Homo sapiens: one gene and its partners. The protein of the gene in region 3 purifies or fractionates together with the protein of the main gene of each other region. This does not show direct contact. Each region holds a gene or a part of one and is shown on either strand. Other genes may lie near its edges.

Region 1 (7,798 bases), on a different chromosome or scaffold from region 3:
ATTTAGCAGAAACAATGGGCAAAAATATTTTTGATATTTATGTAAAATAGTGGTCGCTCTTGATACACAGATGATATGAAAGAACCACATGTATCATAAATCAGTAGCTCCTTTTAGACCTTTGGTAAGCATACTACACTCCGTATAAGTATAATGAGCAGATCCCAATCATTTGGAGGGGGTTCAAAGTTGCTAAACAGTGTTGTAGAGATCAATCATGGAAATACATGCTTGCTGTCTCTTTGTGAATTAAATTTTCGTGCAGTGTTGCAAAAAAAAGTTACTATGTAAAAGTAACACATAAATAAATAAGCTTATCTTTCTTCAAGATTATACTTTTCAGCCTGGCTATACAACTGGCCTATAAAACATGAAGTTATTTCAGTTGTTTAACAAGAATTCATTCTCAATTCCACCAAATAATGGTATCACAAGTTCATCTCAAAACACAAATTAGTGATTAATACATCAAAAAACTTAGTACACCAAAATTGTAGAGAGAATATGATGAGCATTGAAAGGTTAGATGGAAATACTCTTCCGATACCATTGACCAGAGCTCAAATGCCCTGTTTTCAGATACTGTCTTGATCCCATCTAAAATATAAGCCAATTGTGTGAGACTATATACCAATTAAAATACAAAAACTAAAATAAAGCGTAAAAGAAGGCAAAAGAAAATTGATTACTCATTGCATGCTATTTTTTAAATTCATTACCTTGAACATTACTAAACATATCCTAGAAAAGGTCTTATCTTATTAAACTGTCCTCAATGATTTCAAACTGTTATTTCTTATGTAATTTTGTTTTCTTTGATCAATACTTATGAATGAACACAGTAAGCCTAGTGTCAGCAAATTTGTAAACTACTTTGTTAAATTTTAACAGCGTATTATAAAATATTATGACATAATTTTCCAAGTTTCAGTAACCATTTGCTGAATCTGACAGTTTAATGTATTTGACTTCATTGCCAGAATCACAATGCTAAAAATATGTGTGGGCTCTTTAATAATAAAAAAAGAAAATCTATTCATTTTCAAGAAAGCTGCTACCAAACTACTGAATATATTTCAGGTCAAAGAATAAAAGAATTATTTTTAATTCAAATCTAATGACATAAAATGGAGTCCTTGCTGCATTCTCCCAAGCCAGGTTTAGCTGCTCTGTTAGATCTGTCTCTATTTAGGGGAAAAATTGTGTTTTATTCTTTCTTTAGTCTGCACAATTGACCTCTTCTTCTTCCTCTTTATCCTCTTCTTTTTCTTCCCCTCCCCTCTTCCTTCTCTTTCTCCTCCTGTTCTCGTTTCATCATCATCATCATCATCATCATCATCATCATCATCATCAGCTATGAATGGGTTTGTATTCAGAGCACTTTGCAGGTTGGGTTCATGAACAAACGATAAAAACTTTACCCTTCAGGAATTTGTACTTTGAGAATGGAGCTACAGCATAACACATACATAAGAAAAAACAGTAAGATATGCCATATAGTAAGTGACAAACATTTAAGAAATAACTGTTACAACAATTCGAAAAAGTTATTAGTCCTTTAATTCTGACTCTCTGACTCAAGGAAAATTGCTTGGTCACCTTTTTAAATGGGCACAGTGTGTTAAGATGAGAGGAAAGGAAACATGGAGAAGGAATCTGCATTTACTCAACTCCTAGTATGTTCCAGGAATTGTAATAGGCGCTTTTACCTAGTCTTTATTACATCTAACTCACATTAAACAGACCTAAACCCAAAGATAATGGTAGAGAAAATTAATTCTCAAAATGGAGATTTTGAAAAAAATATGGTTGAATAACACAGATTAAGTTACAGAGAAAATGAAGGTGGAGAAAAGGAGCCAGGGCTTTAACACAGGTCATCTGATTGGGAAACCAAAAGTCAATTGGCCACTCATTATGATGGTCAATTGAAAAACTCCTGGCCCTTATACATATTTAAAATTCATGGAGACAATCTGAGTGGGTGGTTTCTGAATTCTAGATCTTATGACTCAATTACAACTTTCTACTGTGAAAGGTTGAGCAGAGATTTAAAATGCTTTAAGTTCAATTATTCTGACTAATATTCAAAGCATTCTTTTCACTGTAAAATGGTTTTTTTTTTTAACTTGATGAAAAACTAAAATAACGTCTCTGAGACAATAAACCACTAAATGAATCTGGCTTTGGTAATACATTGGTACTATTTAAAACAGAGATTCTCAAAGCCTATGGTTGGTTTTAAATTGACAAACCACATTCAGTGTCATATCTAAGAGTTCCATTGTTCAAACATTGCTCAATCCTTATTTTAATAATGAATTCTATTATTGAATATTGAAATATTGAAAGGTGTTTGAAGAAAAATAAATATAATTCCTTACTGCCACTCAAATGTACAGTCTGTGGTTCCAAAAATTTGAATTTAAATGCCCTTATTGTGGGAAAAATAAATTTTTAACTAGAAAAATGGAGAAATCATTTGGCTCATTCTCCCTTCTGCCCACCTCATAATCTTTCTTGGAACTGAAATGGAAGACTACCTCATTTTGTTACATGACAATTCTTTTTTTCTCTGGATGTTTGTGTGAGGTTTTCTCTTAGTTTCCTGTAGAGTTTGAACCCAATGGCCCTTGACTAAATAGTGTGACCGTAAAGTCAAAGAACATTTGATATTTATTAAAAAGCTGTAATCAATATTTATTAACTAGTGTTAAGATATATTGACATTAGACACTGCATATGAAATGCTTAGAACAGTGCCTGGATTATTAAATATTAGCTATTATTATTAATATTTTCCTTGACAAATAAATCATGCTAGTAAAAGTACTTAATTATGTTTCTGATGTTCAATAACGAAACTGAACAGAAAAACTGATATGGTATAGGCTGTTAAAAATGAAAGTGGGCCGGGCTCGGTGGCTCACGCCTGTAATCCCAGCACTTTGGGAGGCAGAGGCGGGCGGATCACGAGGTCAGGAGATCGAGACCATCCTGGCTAACACAGTGAAATGCTGTCTCTACTAAAAACACAAAAAATTAGCTGGGTGTGGTGGCGGGCGCCTGTAGTCCCAGCTATTCGGGAGGCTGAGGCAGGAGAATGGCGTGAACCTGGGAGGTCGAGCTTGCAGTGAGCCAAGATAGCCCACTGCACTCCAGCCTGGGCGATGAGCGAGACTCCATCTCAAAAAAACAAAAACAAAACAAAACAAAAACAAAATGAAAGTGGATATCCACCAACACAGGAAATGTGTAGAAGAATCTCAAAAAATTTTTTTTTCAAAAAAAAAAGCTGTCAAGTTTTGGGGGGAAGGTAATTTGGCCGTGTACTAGTTCTTTATTTGAATTATTAACTAAACTTTGTTGCATAAAACAACAATCGGAATAAATACAGGTGTAAAGTTTTTCTCCCATATTTTATTTTTGTTAAGAAAGAATAGGTAATTCACCATTCAAATAACCTTTCTAATGGGGAATATTAATTGCAACCATAAAAATGTAGAAAATAGTTTCCCAGACATTGAAAGTTCTATTATAAATCAATGAAGAATGCTAATTAGCAAAATACTTTAATTGCCTCACTTTTACTTGATAACCAAGAAAAAGCATGACCATCCCCTTTTAGGAGACAATATGAACAATCTCTTTTATGTTTCTAGCATCATTCTCAGGGATAGATTTCATCCAATTCCTCTCTTTGATGGAGGTAAGTAAAGTAAAACTCATCATTTCTCATATGATAAAAATTTAAGTCCAAAAACATTAAACAATTGAAACAATGTAAGAAAGTGTCTTTCTTTCTTTGGGAAATCAATCTGGATATATACAGCAGTTAATGTTCTAACATGTTGACATCTCTTAATACACATCATTTAAAAGCCGACAGTCATTCTTCCTTTTTTCTCTGACCTCAGATTTCCTCATATTATAACTTAATTCCCTAGTAAACTCTATAAACAGACTCCAATAAGGAACTGAGTCTCATCTTTGACCAAAGTTATATTTCCCACTCACAATTTGAAAAAAAAATCAGTTATCTTCTGTTTTTCTTTCTTTATGTTGTTCACAGTACAAAGAAGTAAGTTACTGTTGGATTAAGAATATCCAAGACAATGGTCACAACTTGAAAGCACATGGAAAAACATGAATTATTTTTATAATGTCAGCTAATCCACAGCTGTGCCACCTGTTAGTATGGATGCTATCCAAAAGGATTTTTGAAAGTAAGCCAGGCAGTCTGCCTTCGATGTATGAAAAAGAAAACTGTCAAACATTTTGAATGGTGGGGAGGGGTTTTTGCTTGGGGGAAAATGGAGTTCGCAATGGACAAACTAGAAGTTATCTCCTGTATCCTATGAATCTCTCATGAGCCATTGTCTTCTGATGAATTAAGGAATAATTAATTTCTAAAAATCATGTCTTAGAAGCCATCACTCCAAGGACACTATCAATATCTATCTATCTATCACGCTGTACTTCTCATTTAGTCTCTTTAAATATTTAAACTTTAATTCAAGGAATTAATGAAGTAACTATATCAAGCACTTTCATTTGAAAAGGTGAATTCACTCATTTTAATGACATTGTGAAAAATCTATTCATATCCTTCATCTGAACAAGATGTTAGAAATGTGTTATTGATATTTTGGATCTCTGAGATAAACAGTACCACAGACACTAAAAGAAACCATAATTAGCAACTGATCCAAGGAAAATATAAAATGACAAAATTCTAAAATGTTATATCTAAACCACAGCAGACATAATAACCACAACAATGCAGAAGTTCTACGAATATCTATTGAACTTTATTAAAAATATAACTAATTTTCCCTACTGACAGATGTTGTAGAACTACATTTGAAAATACCAAGCGGTAAAAGTAATTTCTTACGCCCAGGAGGACACTTCAGGTTAAGCACAATGCTAGTAAAAGCACAGCTGTGAAATCTTAGGAGAGATTTTTCCTATATGCTTTATAAAATCTGATTCTCTATGTTTCTTTTAGCCTTGTTATCCAAATGCAGAAATGGCAGCTGAAGAGATGATTTGTGACAGCATTTGCTGAGACGAAGTCTGTCCACTAGATGGATAAAATCAGTTCCCTTTTCATAGGTCTGTGAGTAGCCAACAGCTAAGAAGCAAATTATTAATTCTTACACTTAAATGACTGCTTAAAGATTTTTGATGTTGTTTTTGTTATTTTCTTAGCCACTAGTCTACAGACTTCAATGACATATTAAGGATTATAAATCTATTAATAAACCAGACACATTCTGTCTCTTTAATTTCTTTGCAATAGTTCTCCAAATATTATACTACCAATACTTACTGGTAGGCAATGATTTAGGGACGAATTTATTTAAATTGTAAAAAATCAAAGATCAGTGAGGGAAAAAAATCAAAATCATCAAGAATACACTAAAGAAAGACTGGTGTCAAAGTTGAAATTTAATACATTAAATATACAGTTGATTCAGCTTCGACTCACCAGGTTAAACTCAGGGAAAATTTCTTAGCAGTAAGCCTCTTTATGTAAGACTCCTAAAAGGATCTGAAGATTTGTTTTACTTAGAGGTCTTTCGATTGCAAAGAATAGAGATTCACCCAGAGTAGCTGAAAGATGGGGCAGCATAGTTATTATTAAAATTTGCCGTGGGATAAAGAGATCCTCAGAGCATACTGAGAGTCATCTTTTCCCCGTTCTCAAGAAAGAAGGCCAATTGAACCAATTCATCTTTTTGGATTCAATTCACGACTTACAAGTCGTAGATTGCTAGTGCACTTACAGATTGGCTGCCCTTGAAAAAGTTTTCATATCTGGCAAAGAAAAGAAGCCAGAGTTGGTGGTAAGGAACACAACCATAAATTGCAGATCATAGCTGATGACTGCAATGGAAGCATGTGGGGGAGGCAGTCCTTCGAAGGAGTGTGGCTGCCAGGCAGGCAGCTATGGCCATCTAGTGTAGAGAGTGGGGTTGAAAGTTCAGAACCTGGACTCATTCTGATTGCATTGAGCCCAGCTCTACTATTTACTACGATGTGACTTTGGTCTAGTCAATTAATCTATTTGGTATTTATTTTCCTCAACATTAGTACCACTTAAGGTTATTGTGAAGAGCCAATGAGTTCATTTAGGTAAAGTCCTTAGGCCAGTGTCTGGAACTGAAATCACCAGGCAGTATAGGTTGGCCAATATTTCCTAGTCTCCTACAGCCAAAGCTGCCTCTTTTTTTCGTTGATTATAGTGGTGTCTCTTCTTCAGGGATGATGTCTGCTTAAGGAAAGGTGAGGTTCTAGAGTCATCTTTCAAGATAAAAATAATCTTACACACACAAAAAATGTCTGAAGAGACTTTTAGTCAGCCTATAAGCTGTACTGTATATTAAATATACTTTATATTAAGTACAATATACAGTATATCCTTGTGTGCATAGATTCCTTTATAGTAATATGTGTGTATAAATGTATAAAGTATATGATGAAGGGGTCTCTTGTCAACAATAATTGTACAGTATTTTAAATAATGAGATAGATCAACATTAACATTGATATGAAAAACAAAGAAAATAAACCTGTACCCTCTCCTTTCATTTATGTATTCTTGTTGGTTTTAATAAATTAAAGATACGCTGAAATGACAAATAGGTTAGTGCTATTGAGCTAAGGATGAACAATGACCATTGAACTTTGGCTGTATATTGCTGTTTGAAATGATGGAACTGGTCATTTGATCACATTCAGCTTGATCATCTACATCTGCTAGTGACCCAGTCCCTGAGAGTCACCAAGAATTGATTCCACTGAGGCGATGGCAGGCGGGGCTTTGGTGTTGGAAAAGTCAGTGGTTGATATGGACAGCACAGACTCACATAAGCTGCTGGTTTATTACACTAGAAAAATAAGGTGAGTGACACTGTGGCTGTTATCTTTTGTGCTGATCAAAACTTTCTGGTATACTCCATGTAATTTTGAGACCTGTTTCATAAAATGTTCATGTTCAGAAATTAAAGCCATCAGGGTTTTGGCTGTTTGGAACAGTTCAGCCAATTTATGAAGACTCCAACCTGCTGGCTCTTTCTGTCCCTTGCTGTTTTCTTTTTATCTCTATACAGTTTTGTTGCTCCCTTTACTTATTGATTCATCAGCCTTCCTCTGTAAAGCCCTCCTAATTCAGCAAGGCCTTCATTAGGGCTGTCCATGAAGAGATGGTCACCCACTTGTCTGGCCACCCGAATGTGTATTCACCAATTCACTCCTAATTAGAAACCCAAAAATCATTTACGTATTTTCTCGTAAGATTTGGCAAAATGTTCTAGAAACAGTTGCATGGCTACAAGTCATAAACGCCTACCTGTTAAATCTTCATCAAAATATCTTTATTCACTTTGCTCAACCCCTCTGTAGTAACTGGGGTCCTTGTTGCCATGATTTTGTGACAATGGCTCTTGATTTTGGTGACAGATGATGCTAGGTTTATTATGGCCATAGTAAAGACCAAATTCAAAACACTCTTTTCTTTTTTTCCTTTTTTTTTTTCTATACTAGAATATCATTGTTTTGGCTGCACACAAGATGAAGTAAGTGGCTTTCATTTAGAGGCCATGTTTTACCAAAAAATATGTTTCTTAAAATACTAGATTCCCCTCAGCATAATGAGATACTCACTTTTGGGGAGGGTGTCAGAAATTGCTGGAGCAACAGATTAATGATCCCCATTTCAGTTTCACATCAGGCATGGGCTCATTGAACACAATGGCTGGTGGGTGAAGTCACCCATACTGTTAAATTATCC
Region 2 (7,798 bases), on a different chromosome or scaffold from region 3:
TGGACAGTTAAATAAAAAAAATTACATGATTTTTAAGCAAAGCTAATGCTAAGTCATATTCAGCGACATTTGTATTAAAGTTTGTATTTGCTCTTAGAAGACTGCAGAAGGGCCAAGTTGGTTTGAATAGAGCTATTGTTAACTAAATCCTAAAACAAAAGGAGAGGAGAAAAAGATTTCTTCTGTCTACTCTCAAAAGTTTTTTTCTTAGATTTCAGGAAAAGCATTAATTTTAAAACAGATACCAGTGTGTAAGTTTTAAGCAGGCTAAAATTTGACTGTATGTTAATAGTTGAAGGCCAGACTTTCAGTAAAACAGATCTTTATCTCTAAAAACTTTTTTATCCTTTCATCATTGTAGCATGTGTTTTGACAGACATTTACTACCTTTCTTAGATTTTTTTAAACATTCCACCTATTTTGCCTGATATTCAGAGCCTCACGAAGTTTGGTTTTTACCTCCTTGACAGCCTTATATCCTACTACAAACCTTCTTCCCCTTACCACTTCCACATAACCAAGCTCCATTCATATTAATCTAATAGTCTTAAGTCCAGCATATCCACAGTCTCATCTGTTGACATGTACTCAAAGACTTATTCTCTTCTTGGAATAATCTTCCCATATATATCTGTTGATATCTTTGTTAGCCTTTAGGTTTCTCATCCTTCAAGGTCCATTTTGAAGAAACAACCCTGTATTTCCTATTTCCATTATAAATACTGCATATATTATATATTCCTCACTAGGTTCAATACTCCTGGAGAGCTGAGGATCTCAGTTTATTTATTTAGAGACAGTCTTGCTCTGTTGCCCAGGCTGGAGTGCAGTGGTGCGATCTCGGCTCACTGCAACGTCTACCTCCCAGGTTTAAGCGATTCTCATGCCTCAGTTTCCTGAGTAGCCAGGATTATAGGCTTGTGCCACTACTCTCAGCTAATTTTTTATATTTTTAGTAGAGTCGGGGTTTTGCCATGTTGGCCAGGCTGGTTTTGAACCCCTGGCCTCAAGTGATCTGTCCAACTTGGCCTCCCAAAGTGCTAGGATTACAGGCATGAGCTACAGTGCCTAGCCTTATTTTATTCTTTTTTTTTTAAATTTTTTAATTTTAATTTTAATTTTTATTTTTTGAGATGGAGTTTCGCTCTTGTTGCCCAGGCTGGAGTGCAATGGCGTGATCTCGGCTCACTGCAATCTCTGCCTCCCAGATTCAAGTGATTCTCCTGGCTCAGCCTCCCAAGTAGCTGGGACTACAGGCACACGCCACCATGCCCGGCTAATTTTTTTGTATTTTTAGTAGAGATGGGGTTTTGCCATGTTGGCCAGGCTGGTCTCGAACGCCTGACCTCAGGTAATCTACCCACCTCGGCTTCCCAAAGTGCTGGGATTACAGGCATGAGCCACTGCGCCTGGCCATTTTATTCTTTTTGTCACCTCCGTGCTGGTTGAAAACAATGTTGTGCAAATAACTGCCTATTAGTTGTTTAATTGAAACTTGATTCTAATTTAAAGCCTAAATCTAAATTAGAACTTAAAAATGAACATCTGTTTTCCCTTGACTTTGTAGCTCAAGAAAACACAAGCACTGATCCAAAGAGTTGTGAAAGGCACCTTGGTCATAATAAAATCAATTCCCGTTGCTCACATAGCAGATGTTACGTGAAGTGAGAAGTTGGAGTATGGACAATTAATAAGGGTCTGTAATTGGTACATTTTTGCCTGTAGGATGTTTCCCTTCAAGATTCAAAATATCAAGGAAGCATTTTTTGCTGTCATTGGAAACACTGAAAAAGAAAAGGATCTGCCTTGGAGACCCATTAGTTAAGTGCTGGAGACTGTAGTCTTTATCTCTTCATGAATGCCCTGTAAAAGCACCTCAGTGCAGATTGGAAAAGCTACTGCAAGCATTAGAATTAACCTGGAAGATAGTAGATGATTAATAGCAGTTTTCTGATTGAAGAAACCAGGCATTTTAGTGTGGCGGATTCAGAATTTATGAATTCAGATCCTTCTTCTGCCAATCCTGTGATAACTTGGGACAATTCACTTAACCTTTCTTTAAGGCCAAGTTTCCTTGTTTGTAAAATAGAGATGATAGAAGCATTTACCTTAGGTTTGTGGTTTGGATTAAATAGAGAGAATTTAGAGAAAGTGCTTAGCGTGGTGTGTAACACAGCAGTAGAGGTTTGTTATTATGATGCTGATAATAGTGTGAGTGGGGCATTCCCCCTGGGTTGATGTCTTTTAAAGGAGAAAATGCAGGTTTCTTATTTAGAATAAGTTAAAGAGAAACTATCTGGTCTTCCCCCTCTCCCCTATTTGCCTTTCTTTTTGTTTTTAGTTGTTATTGCAAGGTTGGCAGTGTTACTCTCCTCCATCTTCATTATCTAAATTGTAGTTTTGTAATAGTAGAATTAGACTCATGAGTAAAGATACGTTAAATTGATAATTTAAAGGATGAAACTTAGACAATGAAAACTTAGCAGTTAATCATTTTGGGACAACTATGGTTAAAAGTTATGTAACATGTCTAAGCACAGACAATATTATTGGAGTGAAGAGGTCATCCAAAATCCCAAAACAAAGGAAGATGAACTATTGAAGGGAGCAGTAGAGGACATTTTTAAAGGAAAGGTTTAATGGCTAGTACTTCATGGTGCTATGTTGGGGAAATTGTGAAGGTGACACTTAGTCAAACAGAGGAGGCAGTTTCAAACTTTAGAAAATGGACAGGCTGGGTGCGGTGGTTCACAGCACTTTGGGAGGCTGAGGCGGGCGGATCATGAGGTCAGGAGTTCGAGACCAGCCTGGCCAACATATTGAAACCCTGTCTCTCCCAAAAATACAAAAAATTGGCCCGGCATGGTGACAGGCACCTGTAATTCCAGCTACTCGGGAGGCTGAGGCAGGAGAATCGCTTGAACTCAGGAGGCAGAGGTTGCAGTGAGCCGAGATCACGCCATTGCACTCCAGCCTGGGTGACAAGAGTGAAACTCCGTCTCAAAAAAAAAAGAAAGCTGACAGATAGTATCTGTAAAAGTATAGGCCACAAAGGAATGACAAGTTGTTAATTAGAACACAACTGGAAATCTCAAGATTACCCTTACCTGCTTTGGTTTTCTACTTAGAGTTATTTAATGCAGCTAAGGGCACTTTTTTCCTCATTTGCTAAAATTTCCACAGTTTTGAATACGAATCATTTCTACATTTCTTGATTATTCGTTTAGGCACATAGTCAGGTGCAACAAAATTTCCTGATCAAGTGGAGCTTGCTAACTGATTTACCAACACAAATTAGACCAAAATTCATGAAGGTGAGGCCATTAAACAGATCACTTTTGTCTGGAATGTATTTCAGAAAACAGGGATTATGTTTTACTTTTATAGCTATGCTCTGCACTGGCAAGAGATTTTGCAACAATTTTTTATTGTTTGCCTAAAACCTTAGAACCTTAGCTCATATTAGACTTGAGTGAACTGAGATGTACAGGAAAGATAAAAAGAAAGTTACTATTGGTCTCAGAATGTAAAAGTCTGGGATTAGGTTGCTTCATCACAAAGTATTCAGCCTTTTACCAAAACTACCTTTCAAAAAGCACTTAAAAGTTGAGGCCACTGACAAAAGGAAGGAAAAATCTCCTACAGTGATTGTTGTTGGAAGAATGGGAATGATAGCTCAATTAATTTAGTTAATTCATACTGCCCCAGATGTCCTTGTCAGCTTGTCCTCTAGTCTTCAGACTTTGTGAATAAATCAGGTGGAGTAAGTAATTTACATGTTGTGTCTCATTTACTTTTTGCAACAAACAACCGCCCTTTACTGATAATGGAGATTAAGGCTAAGGGGAACTAAAAGAATGTTGTCTACAATCACACAGCAAGTGATGGAACTGAAATTCCTGTTGGGGTCTTTCTGGTTTAAAGTTTATTTTAAAGATCATTTCTACTATATCCCAATTTTAAAATATGCATTAGAAAGAAAACAGCAAAAACTTCTTTTTTCTATTTAAAAACAAGCAAAAAGAAGGACATAAAAGTTGCCTATATTCCTGCCATCTAGAGAGACTTAATTCTGTCAAGACTGTAGGACACATTGACCATCTTTATTTGTTCCTCTGCCCCAAAAGAAACAAAACTTAAAGTCAGAGAAGCTTAATGAAACAGTAGGATAAAGGCTCCCTATCTTGTGTCTAGAAGTAAGAATTGACAGTGATTCCGTTTTCAAAGCATTTATTGAATAGTATCTTCCAAACAGTATGCTGGCTTTTAGACAGGTTATACAGGTGAATGTAGGGGTCTATCCTTAAAAAGCCTATAAGGCAGTTGTTCTCAACTCTGGCTCATTTAAAACTCTATTGGGAAGTTTTTAGAAAATATCTGTGGCTGGGCATTTTTTTTTTTTAAAGAGACAGAGTCTTGCTCTGTCATACAGACTGGAGTGTAGTGGTGTGATCATAAGTCACTGCAGCCCCAAACTCCTGGGCTCAAGCAATTCTCCCACCTCAGCCTCCTGAGTAGCAGCCATAGGCATGTGCCACAACGCTTGGCTAACACATTTTTTTAAAGCTTCTTAGGAGATGCAGCCATGGTGAAGAGCCAGTATTATGAATTAATTGGGGAAACTGATGCATATAGATCAGTATTAGGAGAGTTTGAGGCTAGGCCAGATGGCTCACATGTCTGTAATCCCAGCAGTTTGGGAGGCTGAGGCTGGTGGATTGCTTTGAGCCCAGGAGTTTGAGACCAGCCTGGGTAACGTGGTGAAACCCTATCTCTACCAAAAAAAAAAAAAAAAAAAAAAAAAAAAATTAGCTGGTTGTGGTAGTACAGGCCTGTAGTCCCAGCTACTGGGGAGGCTGAGGTGGAAGGATCACCTGAGCCTCACCTGAGGCGGAGGTTGCAGTGAACCATGATTCTGCCACTGCATTCCAGCCTAGGTGACAGAGGGAGACCCTGTCTCAAAAAAACAAAAAACAAAACCAAAAAAAAAAAAAGGGTTTGAATGTTGTAATACAAGTACTTTTGGCTTCCGCAAAGTCTTTCTGAATAAGGAAGTCTTTGAACTAGGCCTTGATTAATGGGAAGAATTTATTAGGAAAAAGATGATGGTATTGGGGATAGGAAAGGATATTTCAGGCTGGGCGAGGTGGCTCACCCTTGTAATCCTAGCGCTTTGGGAGGCTCCTCATTTGAGGTCAGGAGTTTGAGACCAGCCTGGCCAACATGGTGAAACCCCACCTCTACTAAAAATACAAAAATTAGCCAGGCGTGATGGTGGGTCCCTGTAATCTCAGCTATTCGGGAGGCTGAGGCAGGAGAATCACTTGAACCTGGGAGGCAGAGGTTGCAGTGAGCCAAGATCGTACCACTGCACTCCAGCCTGGGCGCAGAACAAGACTCCATCTCAAACAAAAAAGAGAGAAAAGACATTTTCAAAGTTATCTGAACTGCTGTTGTCAAGGTTGAGATCTTTGAGGTATTTGTAGGTTGTTTTTTATGAATAAATTCTTTATGAGTATTCCAGGTCCTTTCATCACTAATGTTTTTTGTTTTTTTTTTTTCTCTTTCTACCAGGTCTTCAATGAAATTTATCCAGTATGGACTTACTCTTACCTGGTGCTACTGTTTCCTGTGTTCCTTGCCACAGACTACCTCCGTTATAAACCTGTTGTTCTACTGCAGGGGCTCAGCCTTATTGTTACATGGTTTATGCTGCTCTATGCCCAGGGACTGCTGGCCATTCAATTTCTAGAATTTTTTTATGGCATCGCCACAGCCACTGAAATTGCCTATTACTCTTATATCTACAGTGTGGTGGACCTGGGCATGTACCAGAAAGTCACAAGTTACTGTCGAAGTGCCACTTTGGTGGGCTTTACAGTGGGCTCTGTCCTAGGGCAAATCCTTGTCTCAGTGGCAGGCTGGTCGCTGTTCAGCCTGAATGTCATCTCTCTTACCTGTGTTTCAGTGGCTTTTGCTGTGGCCTGGTTTTTACCTATGCCACAGAAGAGCCTCTTCTTTCACCACATTCCTTCTACCTGCCAGAGAGTGAATGGCATCAAGGTACAAAATGGTGGCATTGTTACTGACACCCCAGCTTCTAACCACCTTCCTGGCTGGGAGGACATTGAGTCAAAAATCCCTCTAAATATGGAGGAGCCTCCCGTGGAGGAACCGGTAAGCTCAGCCTTAAATATCTTGTAATTGCTACTATGGGGGCTGGACCCGTGGTGAAAAAAACAGCAAACTCCCTCTTGGTAGATCTTGTATTTATTTGGATTCATGTTTTATCCTGAGTTGGTTTATTGCTTTATTCATTCATTCATTCATTCATTCAAGCTATGGTTTATTTATATTAGGGATGACACATTTATTTTTTCCTGGAGTGCGTGACCTCCAAAGTCAGACTGATACAGCATTATATTGTTCATGTCAGAGATGCCTTGGATTGCAAGGGCTGTGTCTTCATCTTTTGAGTGTTTGGCATATAAATAAAGCACTCAGAAAATTGTTGCTAAATGAGTAGATGAAATGATTCTAATAAATGATTAAGTATCTACTTCTAGTTTCTGAATTGAAGCCCAAATTATTATTATTATTATTATTATTTTTGAGACAGAGTCTTGCTCTATTGCTGAGGCTGGAGAACAGTGGTGCGATCTCGATTCACTGCAACCTCCGCCTCCAGAGTTCAAGCAGTTCTCCTGCCCCAGCCTCTCCCTAGTAGCTGGGATTATGGGCGCTCGCCACCACGCCCAGCTAATTTTTGTATTTTAGTAGAGACGGGGTTTCATCATGTGGGCCAGGCTGGTCTCGAACTCCTGACCTCAAGCAGTCCACCAGCCTCAGCCTCCCAAAGTGCTGGGATTACAGGCGTGAGCCACCGCACCCAGTCATGAAGCCCACAGTATTTAAGGGTAAGAAGTTAATTTCCTCTTCTGTGCTAGAAGGGATATCTGTTATTTATTTTTCAAATGACAATTTGCTGAAGTGAAGTAGTAATGAATAATACAGACGAAGAGATCACAAGAGGACAGTTTGAGGTGGTGATGGAATAAATAGTAAAAGTGTGTTATGAAGCTGTCTCTTGGAAGAGAGAGGTATGGCATTAAAATAATTTATCCATCTGTTCTGTCTAGCCAGGAAGATGAATTCCTTTCCCTAGACACCCACCCTTTTTTTTTTTTAAATATTCAAGTGTTTTTTTTGTTTCTATTAGGTTATAAGCTGTGAGGAACAAAGTTAATTCCAGCCACACTGTAGTCTTAGTTTTCCTGGGACATGTTTGGAAATAAGCCTATTAACATTCCAGCTTTGTAGGTGGCCTCAGTCGGACTGAGCTCCATAAGCTTTGTAGGCTGGCTGATAATAAAGAACCATTATGAGTAAAGTCTTTCATTCTCTACTGAGAGTTAACTGAATTGTTTAAATGTGGCATCTAATGTCCTCATTGAAAATTACTCTCTTTTCTCTATCCCCGTTCTTCAGCTCTCAAATTACTACTTGAAATTTAGGTTATCATCCCAGAGAGCCTGGGTAGACTTGTAGAGCCTGGGCAACCCTCATCATGAAACTCACCTTGATTACCAGGGCACCTGTGAGCACTTTTTGTCAGAATGACCAAGGATTAAGTGGCAATGAAATGCTGATTTTTTTCATAGTTTGTTAGGTGATATTAGAGAGTCAACAGAGGGTTGATGGGGGAGGGAAGGAGGTGTGTAATCATTTCATAGATTTTATGAAGTGGAAAAAAAATAAAGACACTTCTTTATCTGTTTTGAATGTGTTACAGTGGCTT
Region 3 (9,318 bases):
CACATAAAACCTTGCTACTCAGAATGTAGTGGCTGGATGAGGAGCTTGGATGTCAAAGGGAACTTGTTAGAAATGCAAACGCTTTGGCCCCATCTCATACTTAAAACTGTGTTTTAGGAAAATCCCCTGGGTGATCTGAATGCACATTCAAGTGCGTTCACTTGAGTGAGACTCAAAGTAGATGTTTCCAGTGAGGAAATTAGTATTTTACTTAGGTAGTTATTATCACTATGAGGATCTGTAAGATAAATATTTAGCTGCGGTATCAGCTGTCTAGAACTAAGGCTGAAAAATGAAGAAAAACAAAACTAATTTGAGATACTGAGGTTCTGCTAAACTCTATCATCGAAAACATAAGTATATCCAGAAGTAACTGATTATTGTTTGCCTGAAGCATTACCTAGTCTCTATGTTGGTTCTTTTCTAACTACAAATAACTGTTTATATATTGATTTTATTTTATAAACAATGTATGGGACTATTTCTTCTTACTAGGTTGACTCATTTGGTGCTGTCTTTGGCTACCCAGATATCTTTCCATAAGAATGTCTAAATTTTGGCTTGTTATAAGAAGACTGTCTGGAATTAACTTATTTTGCCAGCTTTTCCAAAAGAATTTCAACTAAAAGTAGCACCAGAATAATTTATAAAGACGGATACAATTAATGCTCATCTTTTTAAAGTTAGTTTATATTTTCAGTGCTACTGGTGAAAATTTGTCACCAACTCTTTGGACAAACAAATTCCAAAATCTGAAAGGTGACACCAACTGCAATTAACTTTAATCTTGAAAAGTGTGAAACATTCAGGACATAATTGAGATCAACATCCCAGGAGTAAACTGATGGAAGATGTGACTTACATAAGAAACACAGGGGTATTTCTTTATTCTTACACATGATTTTCATTTGCTTACTTGGAATTAAGCTTATGTATTCAAAATACAGATGTACCAAACATCAGTAATTGACATATGATAGATGTAATAATGACAAATAACTCTCAAATAATGTCATATTTTTATTCTTGGTGGTATCATAGGAACTCCGTATGGTTTCATAATTATGGTATAAGACCAAAGATTTAAGCAACTGGCTCTAAAGATACTTGTGTACCCCCAGGCTTTATAAATATTTATTTCTCTGTTTTCTTAAAATGCTAAGTATATAAGGAAATTGTAGAACAGCTGGCATGTAATACAGGATTTCTAGTCTGTTATCAGTAAATGTTCTAAGACACACCTTTAATAAAACAGAGATGTCAAAGACAAAGACAGCAAAGGAAATTTTTATCAGAAAAGGATGATTAAAGAAAGTTCTACAAGACAGGATGGACTAAAGTTTTTTACTCTGTATTTTAACAAAAATGCTTTTTGAAAGTATTGTAAAGTGCTCAGGACTAGGGACTAGGGCTTCATGTAGATGAGATAAAAGAAGTAAATATTTTAAAAAGAAGTATAAGAAAGGAGTTCCCTTGAATACTTATTCTTAACTTTGGAAGCAAGAAACTTTCTAAGGATGGAAGAAGGTTTAGGTGGCCTGGGATCTGACAGGTACTTGTAAGTGAAAAGGCACATATAGAGAACTTAGCTCAATGACATATGATTCAATAGGGACATTGGCCACATGACTGCATAGCTTGCATCATCTCACCACCTTCCAGGCACCTCCCAACACACCCAGATTTAAACCTAAATAATAGAAAAGCTATGCTCAGTGATATTTCCAAAACCTTCTTCCTATGCCTGTGCAAGTATCTTGCTTTCTCTTCCTCTGTCCCCCAAATACTGTTCAGGCACTATTTCTCCTCCTGTACTTCCCTCTTCCTCCTCCCTCTCCCACTTCTTCCTCTTCTTCTTCATTTCACTGTCTGCTTTTTATTATTATTATTATTATTATTATTATTATTATTTCCTCTCCCCTCTCCCCGCTGGCCTCCTGTTTCTTGCTCTCTTGCTCTCTTCTCCCTTTTTCCTCACTCAACTTCAGATCAATCCTGCTGGGTATATTCTGTGTCCTATACCCCTGCTGTGATTCTTAATGAAATAAATTTCAGGAAGCCTACTGATTGGATCCATGACAAGTGTATAATTTATAGGAGCAGCTGGGCCCTCCTTGGCACAGGACAATCCTAATTTTTTCTCTGTATACTCTCTTTCCAATTCTGCTCCATCTTAGCCTTCTCCTTCTCCTACTTCATTGGTGGACATCAGCTGGGAATTCCTTACACTTCTCCTATTTCTTTCTCTTATTTTCTTCTTGGGGAAGGAAAGGGTCTCCTCCCTTTCCTAAAGTGAATCTCAGAAGTTCAATTTAGAAGGATATCCTAATGATATCCTTCTAAAGGATATGAGATGAACCTTTATCTCATAAATCAGGGTCTCATCGTCTCTCCTCCGTAAATCCTAACAGCTGTCTTACCTATCAGCTCCCAACTTCCTTCATATTGCTACCAGAATTAGGTTTAGCATTTGTGGTATGATATTTATTTAGTCAAATCTGATGGTTTTTTGGTCTCTACTCAGATGGGAGATTTCATATTTTATGTTTATGAGAAGTTTCTTTTTCCCTTTTCTGCCTGTGGCCCTCAATTGGAATTTTTCCAATGATTTTCCCATTCTTAATGATTGTTGGATTTTCTGTGGCTTAAAGAAAAAGAAAATAGAGATTTTCTAAATATGGTGATAAAAATCTTTGTAAACATAATAAGGGCAACCTTTTTGTTTATGAGTCTAAAACTCAACAGATCTGATGTCCCAGTGATTTTCTCTCTCAGATTATAGGTAAATCGCTGGCTGTTTTTAAGAAGCCTATGTAGAGAAGTGGAATATTTAGAAGCTTCTGAAATACTCTTTGACTATCAATAACTTCAATATCTGGCTTAGAATTTTCTCTCCTGAGGGAAGGCTTCTGGGAGTAACGCTTTCTAAACGCAATCTGTGCTGGCCACTAAAAGTTAACGTTTCTCTCAGTGCCCCGTATTTGCTTTTTTTCATCATGGGATAGTGGCTGAATGCATAGACTTCAGTGACAAACAGCCTACATTTAAATCCCAGTATCTACTGTGTGACTATGGGTGAATTACTTAACCTCCCTGTACCTTAGTTTCATCACTTATAAAATGGGAATACAATGGCCAAATATCATCATGCATATTTTAAGGGTGAAAAGAGATAATCCTTTTTACATGTACACAGTACTTGAGTGTACAGCAAAGGCCTATTTTTATTGCTATTGTTATATTTACTATTATGGTTAGCTATATATATTATTTGCATTTCCAACTAAATTGTAAATCTCTTGAAGTCAGGTTCTTACACTGCTACTTAAATATAAGGGCATAAGAAGGGCAACCTTTTTGTTTATGAGTCCAAGACTGCCATTAAAAGTAATGGCAGGCCGGGCGCGGTGGCTCATGCATGCCTGTAATCCCAGGACTTTGGGAGGCTGAGGCGGGCGGATCATGAGGTCAGGAGATCAAGACCATCCTGGCTAACTAACACTGTGAAAACCCCGTCTCTACTGAAAATACAAAAAAATTAGTCGGGCATGATGGCGGGCGCCTGTAGTCCCACGCCAGGCAGGAGAATGGCATGAACTCGGGATGTGGAGCTTGCAGTGAGCCGAGATTGCGCCACTGCACTCCAGCCTGGGCGACAGAGTGAGACCCCGTCTCAAAAAAAAAAAAAAAAAAATTAACATGGAATGCTTAGGGATGTCACTTAAATATGTAAGAATTTTTTATCATGTCTTTAAGCCATCTATAATTGATGTTCAAATGTGAATAATGATTCTTAGATTTTTTCTTCATTAATAATAGTTGAATGTTTTACAAATAGAAAGTTATAGTAATTACTGAATATATGTAACTTATTCCCACAAGGCAAAATTTTGATTTAAAGCATAACTGAAACATAACTGTGTAGTTAAATATGTTGAATGCAAAAGCAATGCTTACAAAGTTTGTTTATTTATTTATTTATTTATTTATTTATTTTGAGACGGAGTCTCACTCTGTCGCCCAGGCTGGAGTGCAGTGGCTCGATCTCAGCTCACTGCAAGCTCCGCCTTCTGTGTTCACACCATTCTTCTGCCTCAGCCTCCCGAGTAGCTGGGACTACAGGTGCCCGCCACCACACCCGGCTAATTTTTTGTATTTTTAGTACAGAGGGGGTTTCACCGTGTTAGCCAGGATGGTCTCCATCTCCTGACCTCGTGATCTGCCCACCTCGGCCTCCTAAAGTGTTGGGATTACAGGCGTGAGCCACAGCGCCCAGCCCAAAATTTATTTTTTAACATCATTTTTTAAAAAGTCTGTGGTGCACTTAAAACAACTATCCCCCAATTCCTAGTAAGGTGTCAGTTTTCTGCAAGTACTTAATGGTATCTGGACTAAGTGTACATTTCAAAACACTCACATTATGAGTTAATGCATTTGCAACAAACTTCTGAGTGAAGTCAGATATTGCCTAGGTTGCAAATAAAAAATGCAAAGGAGTGAGGACTTAAGACCTATTGAGTACCCCTGGAACCCTTAATGGTTTTCTTTGCTTCCTTTTCTCTCTTAATAGACAATCATCCCACCTAGGACCATACTAATCAAACAATACACAAATGTTTCATGTTAAGGCTCAGAATCATAGACTCATATAATCAGGAGATTGGAAGGAAACACAAAAAGTAAGACTTTTCAAGACAACCTCATTCACACTGTTTACTTGAATTATTTACTCTTGTTTTATTATTAATTTTTATGCTGTTCAATTGACTACAATTCAAAACCCAGTGTATTCATACCATGTGCTAAGATATGCTCCTTCCTATATGTGTTCCTCTAAAGAACCATCTGGATCTTGTGGGGGATATTTTCCTTTGTGGTATCAAAGCCAGGAGCTCGTGGTTTTCCTTTATTTTTTAAGGGAACACTATCATGTAGCATCTGGGACCAGAAAGAAATCTTGATGTTATATATTTTACAGATATTTTCTTTTTGGATTTTTTTTCCTCTAAGAGAAAAGCTTTTGTTAATGTGTCATGTAAAAATACATTAACTAGTAACTTGTCAAGAAGTGCTAGATTCCATTCTTGTGCGGGTCCATTTATATATGTTCCTGAACAGCTAATATTTCATTTAGTTTCCAATTAAACTTGCTCAAATACATTTTTGAAGTGCATTGCTTAAAATTTACATTCAAGGCAAGAAAACGAGTTTGTCAGTAAATGTAGTAATTAAGGAAGTCCCAAGTCTGTATTTTTAAGATACTAGAGGTAATTGTAACTAATCACTTTAACTTAAAGAAATAGAATTGGAAATACCCCCCTCCCCCCGCCACCCCCTACCAAAACCATACCTTAGTCACTTTGGAATTATAACCGTCTTTTACGTCTATCAATATAAATGTATTGCATTTGGCATTCAAATTACTTTCAAAGGGATAAATTTCGAATTTTTTTTTTTCATTGTAGCTTCTGATCTTTAAATGTACTGAACAGGAGGATTTGGGGAGCTTGTCTTGTCTGATAGGTGTTAAGTATCTATGACGACAAATTTGAGCTGAAGCAATGTGCAATATGGACTAGTAATATCTTCACAAGACTATTTTGGAAATTCTCACGTTGATGTTATTAATGACGTGGGTTTATTAGCATTTGGGTAATTAAGAAAAAACAGTACTAGAATTTAAAAAAAAGAAAAAAAAAGGTAAGAAGGGCGAAACAGAGTTCTCCACTCCTCTCCCAACCCTCATTCCTTTGGAGGCTCGCGCCCTCTTGGAATAGCAGGTTCCTGCATGTGCCAGAAATCCGGTCCCGGCAAAGCTAGACGCTCTGCAATGACAGGCGTTCCCAGCTAGGGACTCCTGGCTGCTTGGAGCTTGAAAACACCTGGCGTGGTTCTCGAGGGCCCTAGAGGCTCCTGCTACGGACTGGTCGGCTCTGGGGTTGTAGGCAGAAGGCTCTAAGCGGTCGGAAGGGTTTCCTGTGTGTCAGCAACTTCACTTTGCCGAGATAGCTGGCGGAAGAGGGAAGGAGCGCTCGCGGGCCAATCGCCTGCCAGCAGCCACCTTGGAGCGCACCCCTCTCCCTCGCCGCCGACTCCGGTAGCAGCGTGCCGGCAGAGGCTGAACACACTCGGCCTCGGCGGAGACCTGCTCCCCAGAAGACGCCTCCTGCTTCCCACTGCGCCCTGGAGGACGCGGGCTGGCTGCTGGGCGAGCTCGGCGGAGGCACGCCCCTCGCCTCCCCGCGGAGTGCGGACTCGCCCCGGTGCCCAAACTCCGCCCACCCTCTAGGGAGCTCCGCTCTCCCGCCTAACCCCGGCACTCCGGACAGAGCTGGGCCTGGGGAAGGGGTTCCTGAACTACGCGGACGCCGAACGGGACGCGCTGCAGAAGCGCACGAGTCTGCGGCCACGCGCGCTCCGATGGCTGCCAGGAGCTGAGCTCAGGGTGGGCGGAGGAAGCGGTTAGACGCCCCGAAACTGAGCTGCACGTTTCTAAGGTAGGGAGGAGGAAGATGCCCCCAATTAAGTTGATCTTTGAGCCAAGGAGGCTGGGGAGCAGCCTCCCCAAGCTAGAGCCCTGCAGAGCGAGTTTCCCTTGACCTCGCTGCGCCTCTGGCGCGCTCTGCAGCGCGGACCCGCGGCCCCTCGGGAAAGCGCAGTCGGAAAGTTATCCGCGGCGGTTCCCTGCGCGCCCTGTTGTGTAAGCTCGGCGTTGCCAGCGGACGGAGAAGTTGCTGGCTTGCCCGATAGCCCAGTTCGGTGGCGGCCCGGGGCGGATTTCATGGCCCGCGGCGAACGCGGGGCCAGAGCTGGCGTGGGCGAGCCCCTGCGCGCCCCCTCCCGCGGGGATCCAGTTCGCCTGCTCCCTTCCGCTCGCTGGCTTTTCCGATGCTTGCTGCGCCCCTGGCCGCCGCTGCCCTCTCGCCGCCTCCTACCCCTCGGAGCCGCCGCCTAAGTCGAGGAGGAGAGAATGACCGAGGTGCTGTGGCCGGCTGTCCCCAACGGGACGGACGCTGCCTTCCTGGCCGGTCCGGGTTCGTCCTGGGGGAACAGCACGGTCGCCTCCACTGCCGCCGTCTCCTCGTCGTTCAAATGCGCCTTGACCAAGACGGGCTTCCAGTTTTACTACCTGCCGGCTGTCTACATCTTGGTATTCATCATCGGCTTCCTGGGCAACAGCGTGGCCATCTGGATGTTCGTCTTCCACATGAAGCCCTGGAGCGGCATCTCCGTGTACATGTTCAATTTGGCTCTGGCCGACTTCTTGTACGTGCTGACTCTGCCAGCCCTGATCTTCTACTACTTCAATAAAACAGACTGGATCTTCGGGGATGCCATGTGTAAACTGCAGAGGTTCATCTTTCATGTGAACCTCTATGGCAGCATCTTGTTTCTGACATGCATCAGTGCCCACCGGTACAGCGGTGTGGTGTACCCCCTCAAGTCCCTGGGCCGGCTCAAAAAGAAGAATGCGATCTGTATCAGCGTGCTGGTGTGGCTCATTGTGGTGGTGGCGATCTCCCCCATCCTCTTCTACTCAGGTACCGGGGTCCGCAAAAACAAAACCATCACCTGTTACGACACCACCTCAGACGAGTACCTGCGAAGTTATTTCATCTACAGCATGTGCACGACCGTGGCCATGTTCTGTGTCCCCTTGGTGCTGATTCTGGGCTGTTACGGATTAATTGTGAGAGCTTTGATTTACAAAGATCTGGACAACTCTCCTCTGAGGAGAAAATCGATTTACCTGGTAATCATTGTACTGACTGTTTTTGCTGTGTCTTACATCCCTTTCCATGTGATGAAAACGATGAACTTGAGGGCCCGGCTTGATTTTCAGACCCCAGCAATGTGTGCTTTCAATGACAGGGTTTATGCCACGTATCAGGTGACAAGAGGTCTAGCAAGTCTCAACAGTTGTGTGGACCCCATTCTCTATTTCTTGGCGGGAGATACTTTCAGAAGGAGACTCTCCCGAGCCACAAGGAAAGCTTCTAGAAGAAGTGAGGCAAATTTGCAATCCAAGAGTGAAGACATGACCCTCAATATTTTACCTGAGTTCAAGCAGAATGGAGATACAAGCCTGTGAAGGCACAAGAATCTCCAAACACCTCTCTGTTGTAATATGGTAGGATGCTTAACAGAATCAAGTACTTTTCCCCTCTTTAACTTTCTAGTTTAGAAAAAAATCAAACCAAGAAAATAGTGAGTTAAAAAAATAATAGAAGTAGAAATGCCCACATCCACACTTAGCTTGTTTGGGTTTGCTTTCACAGTCTCTCTTCCTTCTGACTAGAAGTATGTATAATAAAACAATACTACCTAGTTAAACATTTACTTTCTCTTTTGCCTTTAAAATGTGCAGGCTTTTCTGTTTAAAGTGTGTGTGCACATGAGTACTGGGGCTGTTTTTGATATTAGTAATTTCTCTAAGAAAACTAGCCCCCTGCAACTTGAGTTTGTGGTTTATCTAGCCTTTATTGTTTTTTTAAAATCCACAGTAGGAATAAAAAATCTATATTCTCAGAAATATCTAGCATGGTATATAACAAAACACTAAACTCATCAGTTCATCCGGCATCAGATCAATGGATCTCTGAGCGGGGTGTTTTTTTCAGTGTCTTATAAGCATAGATGATAGTTGACTGAGTTTCTTTAGGGCATTGAATAGACAAGTAAAGCTAATGAATTTAAAAGCCTGAAAAGTGATTGTTTTCCAGTTATTTCTGGAAAAGGTCTCATTATATATTGGGTGCTAAATGTTTGATGGGGAAAGCCTGCATATATTATCGTACTGGTAAAATGCATTCAAAATAATTAAAGTGCATGTATTTTCCTTGTAAACACCATGAGCTCTCTTAGACATCTTGTGATAAAGAGCATTTACTTGCCCCACTGCTGTGCAATGCCTTAGGACTTTGTTTGTGTTCCAGGACAAGTGTTCACTCACATCTGTAAAAACAATTTTAAGAATTGCAAATAAATTACAGACCAAAGATTGAGTAAAGTCAAATAACTGTTAGTAAGTTGAAGGATATTGGACAGGAGGACAGTATTTCAGAAAAGGAGAGGTTGACAGTCATCCACAAGGCATAGCCTCCAAGTATACTCTCAAATGTATGAAGCAACTGGGGTGGGCAGAAGACATTTTAGAATGAGGGCTTTAGTTTAAATTAAAGTCATGGTGGAGAAGACTCTTGCTTCCTCCAAGTGTTTGAAAACACAAAATGCGATATGAAAAGAAGAAATAGAATTTGTATAGGTTGCATTGATAGAATGGGAAGCTATAATCTTTGAATAAACCTTACATCTCAA

Evidence for each region. Proteins that work in one complex are often made in the same cells at the same time.
Region 1: the proteins of P2RY1 (region 3) and GPM6A purify together in Homo sapiens (affinity purification with mass spectrometry; 2 studies listed by BioGRID and IntAct, with this or other methods). This does not show direct contact.
Region 2: the proteins of P2RY1 (region 3) and SLC19A2 purify together in Homo sapiens (affinity purification with mass spectrometry; 2 studies listed by BioGRID and IntAct, with this or other methods). This does not show direct contact.

The regions. Positions count from the first base shown.
Region 1 is NC_000004.12:175,801,854-175,809,651, forward strand, and holds part of GPM6A (neuronal membrane glycoprotein M6-a), read right to left. Parts: intron 6,910-7,798; exon of another isoform or gene 6,748-6,909; intron 5,119-6,747; exon of another isoform or gene 5,012-5,118; intron 4,227-5,011; exon of another isoform or gene 4,073-4,226; intron 1-4,072. UniProt on the Homo sapiens protein: Involved in neuronal differentiation, including differentiation and migration of neuronal stem cells. Plays a role in neuronal plasticity and is involved in neurite and filopodia outgrowth, filopodia motility and probably synapse formation.
Region 2 is NC_000001.11:169,475,534-169,483,331, reverse strand, and holds part of SLC19A2 (thiamine transporter 1), read left to right. Parts: intron 1-5,574; coding exon 5,575-6,177; intron 6,178-7,798. UniProt on the Homo sapiens protein: High-affinity transporter for the intake of thiamine. Mediates H(+)-dependent pyridoxine transport.
Region 3 is NC_000003.12:152,828,813-152,838,130, forward strand, and holds the start of P2RY1 (P2Y purinoceptor 1), read left to right. Parts: upstream 1-6,318; 5' UTR 6,319-6,970; coding exon 6,971-8,092; 3' UTR 8,093-9,318. UniProt on the Homo sapiens protein: Receptor for extracellular adenine nucleotides such as ADP. In platelets, binding to ADP leads to mobilization of intracellular calcium ions via activation of phospholipase C, a change in platelet shape, and ultimately platelet aggregation.